Homo sapiens: one gene and its partner. The protein of the gene in region 2 purifies or fractionates together with the protein of the main gene of each other region. This does not show direct contact. Each region holds a gene or a part of one and is shown on either strand. Other genes may lie near its edges.

Region 1 (4,953 bases), on a different chromosome or scaffold from region 2:
GAAGGTTTAAGGAAGTTGGAGACAGAAGGTAAGACAAAGACTGCGCCAGGAAAGGAAGGGCCAGACAGACAGACTTGAGGTAGAAAACAGACCTGCTGCTGCAGTGAAAGCCCCATGTTGCTGATATCCAACATTTTTCCAAGCTCCATTCCAGACCTTTTGCAACCTTCTTGCCCCTGTCCTGCACCTCACCACCCTACTTCCTTTCCAGTCACTCTGTTTGATCCTGGAACCCCAGCTAAGTGCTCTGAGGTCAGGGATTGGCACCAGAGGCGGTCATGGTTTGATGGGGCCACACGTGCCCACATGCAGTGGTGAATCAGAGAGCGACAGCCAGGGAGTGCCTGTGCAGAGGGGTTTCAGCGTGGGCCATGGTGTTTTGTGGGTGGGCTCAGTGCAGGGGCTGGGGGTGTCAGTAAGTGCCAGGGTGTCAGGAGTGAACCAGTGCTCCGTGGTGGCGATAGAGGTGCTCTCTGGAGGGCAGGAAAACAGCATGGAGACCAAGTTCAGAATTTATTAAGCAGCAAAGGAGGGTGGAAGGGGATAGGTAAAGGATGAAGCCAGTGCCAGAGTGGGTGGTGGGCATGATGGGGGCTCTCCCTAGGCTGCTCCCAGCCTGGCTGTGCAATGTTGGCAATTTCTGCTCCTCCTGCCTGCTCCCCTCCCCATAGAGAGAATGGAAAGGAGAGGAGAGAAGAGAGCTGAGGTGGCCACGCTGGCGTGGGGCTCAGAGGGAGGTGATGTCATTGAGTGCGTTGTCCAGTTCCTCGCTAATGGCCTTGTACTTCATCTTCTGGGCATAGACTTCATCTGGGGGGGGTCCAGGGAGGGGACCAGGTGGGAGTGTGGGAAAGGGAGTGGAGGGAAAGAGGAAAGGAAGGAGAGAGAGCAATGGAAAGAAAAACAGAATCAGAGGTACACAAAGACAGAGTGAGAGAGGGAGGCCAGGGAACAGGCTGGACAGCTGTCAGGAACTCCTTCTCCCCATCTCTACCCCATCTCTTTTCTGTCCTTCTCTGTACCCCAAATTGGCTCTACCCATGGCAGCTCCTGCCTCTCCAGGGAGCTGTGTGTACAATGCTCTCGACAAGCAGGAGTGCTTGCTTAGAGGGGAGAGGGAGGGTGCTGGAGCCAGAAAGGGCAAACCTCCTAAAGCTGGAGGTAAAATTGGAGCTTGCCTGAGAAGGCTGGAAGCGAGAGAAGTGGGAAAGTGAAAGGGTTATCACAGAATAAAAAGGAAAGGCAACTTTAGCCACATCATCATTAACAATAGAAATAGCCACAGACTCACAAATATCTGGATGTTTGCTTTTGTCAAATCTAGCTTAAAATAGTGTTTTCTATTAGTGCTGTCATGCAGACCTAGATGTTCAGTCCAACAGCTCTCTAGTTAATAAGCCAGTCTCTGCACTAGAACTCTACTGCGTTACACTCGGGGACGGAATTGTCTATAAGGGTGCCACTCAGAGTGTGGCATGAGGACCAGCAGCATTGGCAGTACCAGAGAACTAGCTAGAAATGTAAATCCTCCAGCCCAAAGTCAGCAATCTCTTTGGGGCAGAGTCAAGGAATCTGTTTTTAAAACTCTCCCAGTGATTCTCATGCATGCTGAAGTTTGAGAAGCACTGGAGTTGTTGCGCCGTGGGCAGCTACAATTACTTGAATTGTAGACATGGCCCACAGAGTTGGGGAGTTGGTAGGGTCCTAGGTGGCCCAACCCTAGTTTATTGGTGGCAAATAAAATGGGATGAGAAGGTACAGGACAGACTGATAATCACGGCAGGTGTGGACCTACTTATAAAGGCTTCTTTTACCTTCTAGGTCATCGATGGTTTTCTCCAACTTTGCCACAGACCTCTCGGCAAACTCTGCTCGGGTCTCAGCCTGGGGGTAAAGGCAGGATGGGAGAAATGGCAAAGAATTAGGCCCTCCCACAGACTACTGCCTAAGTCAAGCTTCTTGTCCATCCCAACCCTCAAGTGTCCTGCCACAGGCCGTCTCTGGCAAGGATTAGGGTGGCTTGAGGGGAGACTGGGAACTGGAAGAGGACTCTCACCTCCTTCAGCTTCTCCTCCAACAGTTTGATCTCCTCTTCATATTTATCTTCTTTGGTGGAATACTTTTGGGGACACACACACGCCATCAGTACAGCGCTACCACAGATCCTTCATTTCTCCATTGTACCCCGTAGGCTCCTGGTCATCTTGCCTCCGTTGAACACCCAGCCCCTCCCTGCCTTGGGCCCCTCACCTCCCTCCCCTGTGGGACCCCATCCTCACTGCCCCTCTGCTCCCCTCTACCTTGTCCGCCTGGGCCTCCAGGGATTTCAAGTTGTTGGTAACAATTTTCAGCTCCTCCTCTAGGTCCCCACATTTACTGCAGGGGGTGTGTGGCGGGGGGGGCAGGGTGTGAGGGCACAGCGAAGCCAGACAGTGGAGATGGCACAGCAGGGGACGGGTGGAGGAGAGAAGAGAAGAGCAAAGTTGTGAGAGTGACAGCAGGCAGGGCTCAGAAGCCCCAGGCCCTTCCTGATCCCCAGCAGCTGAGAAAGAGCAGCCTGCGGTGCTGAGACGGAGGGAAGGTGAGCTGAGAGAAGGCGCCATTGCCCAGAAAGGTTCAGAGGGGTCACTACCTCCTCCTCTGAGGCCATCAGGGACTTGAGGGCCTGGTCCATGGTTCGAAGTTCCTCCTCCAGCTGTCTGGCTCGGCTGGGGGCAGCGGGCAGGGGTCAGAGAACAGGGCCTGTCCCTACAGCCCCAAGCCTAGGATGCTACCTTCCCACTGTGTGGAAGGCCCCAGGGCCAATGGGCTCACTTGTCACCCCCGGGTATCTTTACCTCTCGGCCACCTCAGCCCTCTCCTCCGAGCGCTCCAGCTCTCCTTCCAGGATCACCAGCTTCCTGGCCACCTGTGGGGAGTGAGAAAGAGAGGGTAGATCAGTGGAGAAGGACTGGGCATGTTGCAGGCTGGGCAGCGAGCAGGCAGAGGGGCAAGGCTGTCACCTCTTCATATTTGCGGTCTGAATCCTCAGCGATGTGCTTGGCCTCCTTCAGCTGCATCTCCTGCAGTTCCATCTTCTCCTCATCCTTCATGGCCCGGTTTTCGATGACCTTCATTCCTCTGAAAGGCAGGGAGAGGGTGAGCGTAGGGTCAGGACCAGCAGAGACAGGCTCCCTTCTCCCTCCCGGACCATCCTCCCCGAGGCCCCTGACCACCTCTCGCTCTCATCAGCCGCCTTCTCGGCCTCCTCCAGCTTCTGCAGGGCTGTAGCCAGGCGCTCCTGGGCCCGGTCCAGCTCCTCCTCAACCAGCTGAATGCGGCGGTTCAGGGAGGCCACATCTGCCTCAGCCTGTGGGTCAGAGGTCAGGGGTCAAAAAGGCCTTGTTAGCCTTGGATAAGGATCAGAGAGGCTCCAGAGGATGGCGAGATTCTTCTCAGAAAGAACTGAGGCTTCCTGGTTTCTAGACATTCTATGTGATTTTTCCCCAACCAATCATCTTCTGCCCAGACTGTGCTCCAGTAAAAAATGTGCATTCAGGCCGGGCATGGTGGCTCACGCCTGTAATCCCCGCACTCTGGGAGGCCGAGGCGGGTGGATCACCTGAGGTGAGGAGTTTGAGAGCAGCCTGGCCAACATGGTGAAACTCTGTCTCTATTAAAAATAAAAAATTAGCCAGGCATGGTGGCGCATGCCTGTAATCCCAGCTACTTGGGAGGCTGAGGCACAAGAATCACTTGAACCCAGGAGGCGGAGGTTGCAGTGAGCTGAGGTCGTGCCACTGCACTCCAGCCTGGGTAAAAAGAACGAAACTCCATCTCAAAAAAACAAAAAAATACATGCATTCCTTGCTTGACAAGCTCCGCTCCCCTGCTGCAGGGCCTCTCCTGCACTGTGCACAGTTAGTCTCCCAAAGGTCACCTGCACACAAGTCCTCCTGTTCCCTGTGGGAGCACTTCAAGTGCTGGGGCCAGGTCTGATGCAGCTCTGATTCCTACACAGCAAAGCCTGGCCCAGGTAAGGGGATGGGAGGAGAATCAGGCCAACCAGACATCACTGCTGCTAAGAATAGCCCGTCACAGAATCAAGCTCAGTGATACTGGGCATGGTGGTGCATGCCTGTCATCCCAGCTACTCCGAAGGCTAAGGCGGGAGTTCAGCTTGACCCCAGGAGCCCTGCCTGGGAAACATAGCAAGATCCCATCTCAAAAAAAAAAAAAAAAAAAAGTATCAAGTTCAGTGATGTCATCTGTCATCAGCTGTAAGGCAGACTCCCAGCAAGAAGCCCAAGAGGCAGGCCTATAAGGAATACCCATGGCTGTAGCAAGGGGCTCCCTGCCAAGGCCAGCAGAGAGCTGGGGGCAATGCAGGGGCAGTGTGAGGGATGTCTACTCAGCCCCTGGGCTTGCAGTAGGAGGCAAAACCATGGAGGTTTTGGAAAAAATCCATAAAAACTGGTCAAACACTGAGAAAAAGGGCAGAGCAAGGCGAGCGCCAGTAAAGGAAAATGAGAGGAGCAGGGCAGCCACGTGTTAAGAGCATCGGCTCTGAGTCAGATTGTCTTTGAGCCACGGCTCAGCCACTCAACACCTGTGTAACTGTGGGCAACTTATTTAGCCTCTCTAAGCTTCAGTTTCCTCCTTCACAAGTTGGAGTTAACAATAACAGTTCCTCCTTCTTAAGGCTGTTCTGAGATAATCCACTGCTTTTAATACTCAGTTAATCAACAGGACCTTCGGTGAGACTCATAAAACTAAACAGGTTCTCTTACTCCATGCTAGATCCACTGAATTGGGATGTGTAGGGCGGGGGCTTGGGAATCTTCTCTTTTTTTTTTAAAGCCCCCGAGTGATTCTGATGATAAGCCAAGTTTGGGAAATTGTAAAATAACATGCAGAAAGCACTGAGTACATTGCCTGCACAGGGTCCACATTCCATAAATATTAGGTTATCCC
Region 2 (8,301 bases):
CAAGGAGCCTAGTAAGTTCTTCATTATGGTAAAAACACGATGAAAAGTGATATTTTAGAAAAACCGGCCAGGTGTGGTGGCTCACGACTGTAATCTCAGCACTTTGGGAGGCTGAAGTGAGCTGATCACCTGAAGTCGGGAGTTCGAGACCAGCCTGACCAACATGGAGAAACCCTGTCTATAGTAAAAATACAGAATTAGCTGGGTGTGGTGGCACATGCCTGTAATCCCAGCTACCTGGGAGGCTGAGGCAGGAGAATCGCTTGAACCTGGGAGGCGGAGGTTGCAGTGAGCCGAAATCGCGCTATTGCACTCCAGCCTGGGAAACAAGAGTGAAACTCCATCTCAAAAAAAGAAAAAGAAAAACCACTCTTCAGGTTGTATGCAGGATGTAAATAATTTAGTGGAAAGCAACTCATGAGATTTGCGTTGTTCCAGAAACAATCTGTACTCTGGCATTATGAATGGAGAGGAGAAAAATAAATATTATGAAGAAAATACCTTGCTTGAGTGATAATTTTATATGAAGTATAAATGAGGAGTGAGTTAAAATAACTCATGGGTTTTAAACATGGATGTCTGGGAAAATGGTTGACCAAAGTGGGAACTATGGGAGGCCAGAGTGGTTTAGGACAGAAGTTATTAATTTGGTAATGGCCAAGCTGAGTTTATGGTGACAGCCCTATGAGGGTGTCCTAAAGGTCACTGAACTAGATCAGGGCTAGAGTTCTAAGTGCAAAGTCACAGATATGAAAGTAAATGAGCTCAACAGAGCCAGTACACACAAGCTCAGAAGGCCAGTGACTGTGCCTGTAGTGAGTGGGAGGAAGAGAAATTAATGAATGGAATGGAGAAGGATTTGACTGGAGAAGTAGGCAGATAGCCAAGTTTGTATTATAGAGTCTAGAAGAGAAAGTTTAATATAATCCATCAAAAGCTACCAAGAGGCCAAGGAGGAGGAGGTCACTTGTAACTCTCAAGAAAGTAGTTTTAACTGAGTGCTTGGAGAAAAGCTAGATTTTTGTGGAGTTAAAGAGTGAGTACATTATGAGGAAAGGGAGGTGAGTACAGACCAACCATCTAAAAAATCTGGTAATGAAAAAGAGAAGCAACGGCTGGAAAGGGGAATAGGACCAAAGAGCAGCCTGCATATAGTTGAGCACAGATGAAAGAAGCCAGTAAGAATGGAAGTGAAAGATTGACAATAAGGGCAGTTAATTCTTTTTGAAGTATACAGTAGGCTGGGCGCAGTGGCTCACGCCTGTAATCCCAGCACTTTGGGAGCTGAGGTGGGCGGATCACCTGAGGTCAGGAGTTTGAGACCAGCCTGGCCAACATGGCAAAACTGTGTCTCTACTAAAAATACAAAAATTAGCCAGGCATGGTGGCGGGTGCCTGTAATCTCAGCTACTTGGGAGGCAGGCAGGAGAACTGTTTGAACCCTGGAGGTAGAGGTTACAGCGAGCTGAGATTGCACCACTGCATTCCAGCCTGGTGGATATAAAAATAATAATAAATAAACAAACAAATAAATAAAATATAGAGTAGACTCTCTTTAGATTGTAAATTCCTTGAGGACAGGAATCTTGTCTTATTCATATTTATGTCCCTTTCTATAGCACCTAGCACAGTGACTAGTATAGTATAATGCACATAATAGATAAAAAATAGAAACAATTGAATTGAATTGGCCTCCCTGGTATGGTCAGGGATAGCTGAAAGGCACAGAAGGACTCCTTACAGTGATGGGGAAGGATGGATCTTTCTCTAAGCCCAAAGGAAAGGAAGACAGAGGTTGTTGTAAAGAGGTGGCAGTCTTTCTGGAGGGGGACAGAGAAGTGGTAGGAGGAATGACACCAGCCTACTGTGTGGGGATGTCGGTATTTTAGCAGAGTCCAGATCTGAACGATGCCGTGTCCAGTTTGCGAAGTCCTATTCCCCTCCTCCTGTCGTGTGCCTTTGTTCAGGTGGGGATGTATTTCATGTAGAAGGTAAGAGTGCAGCCACTGGCTTTGGGGGAGTCTGTGAAATAATATTTTTTAACTTCCCACACTAAACCGAAGTAATTCTTACCAGTATCTCTAGTTAGTGTTTCCAGCCTGGTCAATTATCAGCCACTGAAGGAAGAGATTTAGGCTCATCCCTATAATCCCAGCACTTTGGGATGGTGACGTGGGAGGATCGCTTGAGCCCAGGAGTTCCAGACCAGGCTGAGCAACATAGTTTAAGTCCAGGCTGAGCAACAGACCTTGTCTCTACAAAAAAATTAAAAATAAATAAATAAGAACTCCTCTACAAGACGTTAAAAAAATTAAAAATAAAAATTAGTTGGGTGTGGTAGCACAGGCCTGCAGTCCCAGCTATTGGGGGGGATGGGGTGGAAGGATCCCTTAAGCCCAAGAATTGGAGGCTGCAGTGAGCCATGATCTGGCCACTGTACTGTTGCCACTGGGCAACACAGTGAGACTGTCTCAAAAAATAACAAGTAAAATGAAAGAAGAGGGATCACATTTAGAAAAATCTTCTTATTCAGTCTTAAAGAAGTTTAGGAGATGCTGAGGCAGACTTTTGTGATGAGTCATTACTTTTTCTGAACTAAGAGGACTTCAGGATCTCCTAGAGCAGATAGATGATGGGGTTGGGGGAATACTTCTCCAAGCTTCCAAAATGTCTGAACAATCAAAGCTAGTTCCAGCCTGGCCACGTTTCAAGTCATGGCGAATGCCAGAGGGCAAAGTGGGTGGGTCTTACAACCTGGTAGAGTCAAGAGGCAAAGTTCAGAGGCAGAACGGATGGCGGTTCTCTGATGTATGGCAGGGCGGTGGGAGAGAAGGGAAGAGAAAGCCGTATTATAGGAAAAGAATTTTTAAATTGGGATGCTAAATAACCATTGATCATAGAGAGATTCAGCAGGAGGTGAAAGGACTGTGGAGGAGAGGGGTACACACACATCTTTCCCAGGAGCTATCACAGAGCAATCCCAGCTCAGAATATCTGGGGAGTTTCCATAGAGTGTGGGGGGCATGAAGGGGTTTCTCGGGTCTCCTGACTCCTTTTATTTTCTTTCTTTCTCTGCTTTTTTAGGTGGAAGAAGGCTGCTATGACTCTTTGGATGGGAGTCTGGCAAGAGGAAATTGGAAGATAAAATAAATAATAAGTGAAATAATCTGGTTACCATCTACTCCTTCATGAGTCTGTTCTAAAGTCACAACTAAAGAGAGCGCCAGGATTTAGAGGCAGCAAGCGTAGATTGGAAGGGGAGGTGGGTGACAATTGAATTAGAGGGCATTATGGACTGAATAAACCTGCAGTTTGGAGAAGACTGGAGAAGGGCACCCACAGACAACAGGTTTATTCACAGTCCATATTGGTAATTCTCTTGTTTTATTTTATTAAGTATGGTGTTGAAACAGTGTGCTTGGGGAAACGAGGTTGAGGTTTTAGAATCTTTTTTTCTTTTTATAAGAATAAGCACATTGTTAAAACATAAGGTAAAATATCAAAAACTACTTAGAATAGACTTAAAATATTCACACCTACCCACCCCTACCCACACCTCTGTCCAACAATGTGCCTTTTGCAGTTGGTAATTATGGCAGGGACAAACTCACTTAAATTTTTTTTTAATTCGCTATCCTCGGGACCCTAATTAGAATTGGGCTGCCCCCTTGCGGTCTCTCCGACGTCCTATCTTCAACCAGCTCACAGTCCTTGGGCCCTGCTCTCCTCTCCATTGTACTCTCAAAATGCAAGGCGCAACGACAATAGTAACGTCCCAGTTACTTCTGAGACTCTCTAAACTCTGGACTTGCCTCCCTCCCCTCCTTCAAAGTCTTTCGAATCTTCTCCAGCGGACAAATGAAGGGACTGAAGCTGGACAAAACCATAACCTAGGAGATCAGGGACCTACCCCATTCTGTTCCCCGTGCTTGGAATCAGATAATTTAGGACGCCGGGCCCGAGAAGCCTGGATAAAAAAGTCAGGAAAAACTGAGTTTCGTTTTGACCTCTAGCGTCGTGGCGGGCTGGCATCTGAGCTGGTAACGTGCGTGGTAGGTTATGTAAGAAAAGGGATGGAGGAGCCGCCCCAGCGGGAGCCAGAAAGGACGCGGTGTTCTCGGTTGCAATCCCCACCCTCCTCACCCAGCAGGGCAGGAGGCACCCAACTTGGAGGAGAAAGGGGTGGGGGAGGTGAAACAGAGACCGGAGAGTCACGAGGGCTGGGCCGCCGAGAGCAGGAGAATATACCGTGTCACACACCTCCATTCTCTCACACACGTTGCAGACACAAATCACTGACGGTTTCCACGTGCTGCGCTCGTGAGCGGAGGTGTTCAAAGAGGGGGCAGATGAGTTACTTCCCGAGACGGAACCGGGGGTCCCACGTCCGCCGCCTTCAGTAGCACAACCAATCTCTGAACACTCAAACCGCGCATCTCTGGCGCATCACCATCCTATTTAAGGCCACGGGCTCCGCCCTTTTCCTCCCCTCCCTTCTTTTCCACTCTTTTTCCATCCTCCTCCTTTTCTCATCACCGGGTCCTCTCCAGCAGCCGCATGTAGGGGAGGAGCACGGAATGCTTCCCTTACAGCCAATCATCACCTGGCTGCCTCTCTACTGGCTGAGCCCCTTTGTACTGTAGCAAATGGGCTATGGACTTCAGTAACTAGAGTCACGTGTTACCGGCGACACAACCAATGAGGGCGCGAGATCTGTGTAAGCAGGGGGAGGCACGTGCCGGGCCGCACGTGTCTGGGAGGGGGGGGAAGGGGCGGGGCCCACTGAGAGAGGCGGAGGTGGGTAGATAGACCCGGAGAGACGGCGAAGGAGCTGGAAACCGAGCCAGGGCTGAGCCGGCTGACAACAGGTAAGGAGATTCGGAGGACAAAGCGAGCTGTTAGGGAGTATTTGGGAGTGGATTTGGGGGCTGAATGCAGATCTTGGTATTGGGAGGGTTTGCATCACGTGGCAGGTGCGAGCCCAGAGAGACCGGCGCAGGGATCCTGATCTTGAAAGATTGGGAGAGGGCAGGAGGCCAGTCTCTATGGGGGCGGTTCCCGTAGGATCACCAGGTGGGTTCGCGTGCCCAGATTGACTGCTTGTGGGTGGCATGGCCTCAGGTGGAGAGGCTTGCTGCGGACTCAGGCTGGCGAATAGCCCTGGCGAACAACGGGCGGAGGGGAAGGTGTCTTTCAAGTCGGTATTTACTCTGAACTGAGGGAAGAAAAGAACGGAGGCCGCGTCAGACCGAGAGCTGCTCTGCGGCGGCCAGAGAGGGAATCCCAAGCTCTTAATGGGCGGGGGTGGGGGTAGAAATGTCTTTTTCTATTGTGTTTGAGACCGGTAATATTGGGGAGGGGGAGAACAAGTATTATCCCACGCAGTACACCCCAATCTCCCAGTTCATTTCCTAATCCTTAAACTCTGGTTTCAAACTCCCTCGCTTTGCTCTTCAGTTGCAGGTTCCGATCTTTGGGTACTCCAGGAGCTGTTCTATAGCCCCTGCTTCTGGACCTATGGATTCTCCATCTAGCGTTTCTTCCTATTCCTCCTACTCTCTCTCTTCGTCTTTTCCCACCTCCCCAGTGAACAGTGACTTTGGCTTCCCCTCTGATAGTGAGAGGGAGGACAAGGGGGCCCATGGGCCCAGGCCAGACACTGTTGGGCAGAGGGGAGGTTCACGGCCCAGCCCGGGTCCTATCCGCTGCAGGCATCGATCGAAGGTTTCCGGTAACCAGCATACACCATCTCATCCGAAACAGCGGGGTTCGGCTTCTCCTATGGCAGGATCTGGGGCGAAAAGATCAAGAGATGGTGAACTGGAGACCAGTCTAAACACCCAAGGTTGTACCACAGAGGGAGACCTGCTGTTTGCCCAGAAGGTAAGAGAAAGCAGGTGAAAGGAGATTCTCCTGGAGTGCCTTAGCACCCAGCTGGTTGATAAGGACCCTGTGAGGACAGTATTGACTCCCAGATTTGGAGGTGAAGGAAGAGCCACTGCTGGTGTGGGCAGTTTTTTGTCTTCTTACAGCCTTTGTCCTATTTTCCTACAGTGTAAAGAACTCCAAGGATTTATACCTCCTCTCACAGACCTACTCAATGGGCTGAAGATGGGTCGTTTTGAGAGAGGTAATCTTATTGTTGCATTCATTTGGGCTAGGTTCATTTCTCTTTCTCTTTCCCTCTTTTGACGTGTATTTCTCTGAAGTTCTTGTTTGGGGCCTATATTACTCCTTTTTTGCTACTATGACTTTATTATTATTATTATTATTATTATTATTTTGAGACGGAGTTTTGCTCTTGTTGCCCAGGCTGGAGTGCAATGGCGCGATCTCGGCTCACTGCAACTTCCACCTCCTGGGTTCAAGCGATTCTCCTGCCTCAGCCTCCCCAGTCGCTGGGATTACAGGCGCCCACCACCATGCCCAGCTAATTTTTGTTATTTTTAGTAGAGATGGGGTTTCGCTATGTTGGCCAGGCTGGTCTCAAACTCCTGACCTCAGGTGATCCACCCACCTCAGCCTCCCAAAGTGCTGGGATTACAGGCGTAAGCCACCTTGCCTGGCCCGACTTAATTTTTTTAGATCAATCAATTTTAACCCCCTTCTGTTCTTCCTTTACCTGACTACATGCTTGAATCTCAATCCTTAATCTCTCTCTGTCCCTGTCCCCAGGATTAAGCAGTTTTCAGCAGAGTGTGGCAATGGACAGGATCCAGCGTATTGTAGGTGTTTTGCAGAAGCCACAGATGGGGTAAGTCCCGCTGGTTCTTTGCTTGGGTCTTCATAAAAAGGAGATTTCTCCAATCCTGTTGCTGGTTTTTTAAAGCAACGTCATTTTCACAGGGAACGTTACCTAGGAACCTTGCTACAGGTAGAAGGGATGTTAAAGACTTGGTTTCCACAAATAGCTGCCCAGAAGTCATCATTGGGTGGTGGCAAGCATCAGCTGACCAAGGTAAGAACTTAAGAACACGAGGAAGAGGTGGGAAAATAGCCAAGAAAATGAAATGTGCATGCAGAAATGGCCCCTTTTGCCATTTTCTTTTGAGTCTTTTCTTCAAGTTTCTTTTCAGGGAAGGAAATTCCTAAACTTTCTGCATTGTCTTGATTCCTACATGTTTTGTTGTTGTTGTTGTTGTTGTTGTTTTGTTTGAATCACTGGGAGGAACTCCATGAAGTTTAATCCTATCCCTCATGCCACAGCTTATCTGCTTTCTGCGTAGATACAAAAGGCTTTTTACCTGGCCAAATGATTCATGCGGGAATACACCTCAGCTTCTCTCTGCAAACTCTTTTTTCCCTACTGCCCCCAAACCCTTCCCTTCTCCTTCTTTTCATTTCTGCCCACGTATCCTTGTGCCAAACCCTTTGACAGTTTTTGAGTCTACACTGGGTTTCAAGGACTGGTCATAAGAGGTACCTCACTGGAAGTAGGGGAGGGGGGCACCAATAGCAGCAGTGTTGATAGATTCTTAGACCTGGTATAGAAGTGACCTATTTTCAGCCGGGAGCGGTGGCTCACACCTGTAATCCCAGCACTTTGAGAGGCCAAGGCGGGTGGATCATGAGGTCAGGAGTTCGAGACCAGCCTGGCCAAGATGGTGAAACCCCGTCTTTACTAAAAATACAAAAATTTGCCAGGCATGGTGGCGCACGCCTGTAGTCTCAGCTACTCGGGAGGCTGAGGCAGGAGAATTGCTCGAACCCGGGAGGCAGAGGTTGCGGTGAGCCGAGATCGTGCCATTGCACTCCAGCCTGGGAGACAAGAGCGAAACTCCATCTAAAAAAAAAAAAAAGTGACCTATTTTCTGTCCTCAAATAATAGGGTATGTAGAGGGCATTCAAATGACGGAGAAGGAGAGTCTCCTGTAGATAATCACCAGTCCTAATTTTCAATCAGCCATGGTTATTATTGCTGTGACTAATCTATTAAAAAATAAGTAGGCCAGGCACAGTGGCTCACTGTAATCTTAGCACTTTGGGAGGCCAAAGCAGGAGGATTGCTTGAGCCCAGGAGTTTGAGACCAGCCTGGGCAACATGGTGAAGGCTGCTATCTACAAAAAATACAAAAAGTAGGTGGGCATGGTGGCGTGCACCTGTAGTCCCAGCTGAGGCTGGGTGGGAGGCTGAGGTGGGAGGATCTCTTGAGCTTGGGAGGTCGAGGCTGCAGTAAGCCATGATTGTGCCAGCCTCGTTGACAGAGTGAGACCCTGTCTCAAATATAAAATTTTAAAAAAACAGTAGGAGGATCTTGCCTGAATATTAATTTACACTTCTTAAAGAACTCAAGATAGAAT

The links. The genes of interacting proteins can lie anywhere in the genome.
Region 1: the proteins of CIART (region 2) and TPM2 purify together in Homo sapiens (affinity purification with mass spectrometry; 2 studies listed by BioGRID and IntAct, with this or other methods). This does not show direct contact.

The regions. Positions count from the first base shown.
Region 1 is NC_000009.12:35,682,432-35,687,384, forward strand, and holds the end of TPM2 (tropomyosin beta chain), read right to left. Parts: intron 3,350-4,953; coding exon 3,216-3,349; intron 3,121-3,215; coding exon 3,003-3,120; intron 2,909-3,002; coding exon 2,838-2,908; intron 2,709-2,837; coding exon of another isoform or gene 2,377-2,708; coding exon 2,301-2,376; intron 2,120-2,300; coding exon 2,057-2,119; intron 1,885-2,056; coding exon 1,815-1,884; intron 811-1,814; coding exon 728-810; 3' UTR 501-727; downstream 1-500. UniProt on the Homo sapiens protein: Binds to actin filaments in muscle and non-muscle cells. Plays a central role, in association with the troponin complex, in the calcium dependent regulation of vertebrate striated muscle contraction.
Region 2 is NC_000001.11:150,277,751-150,286,051, forward strand, and holds the start of CIART (circadian-associated transcriptional repressor), read left to right. Parts: upstream 1-4,803; 5' UTR 4,804-5,517; coding exon 5,518-5,883; intron 5,884-6,054; coding exon 6,055-6,130; intron 6,131-6,675; coding exon 6,676-6,754; intron 6,755-6,846; coding exon 6,847-6,958; intron 6,959-8,301. Other genes in the region: uncharacterized protein LOC124904414, read right to left, coding at 3,911-4,266; uncharacterized protein C1orf54 isoform a precursor, read left to right, coding at 1,890-1,988. UniProt on the Homo sapiens protein: Transcriptional repressor which forms a negative regulatory component of the circadian clock and acts independently of the circadian transcriptional repressors: CRY1, CRY2 and BHLHE41.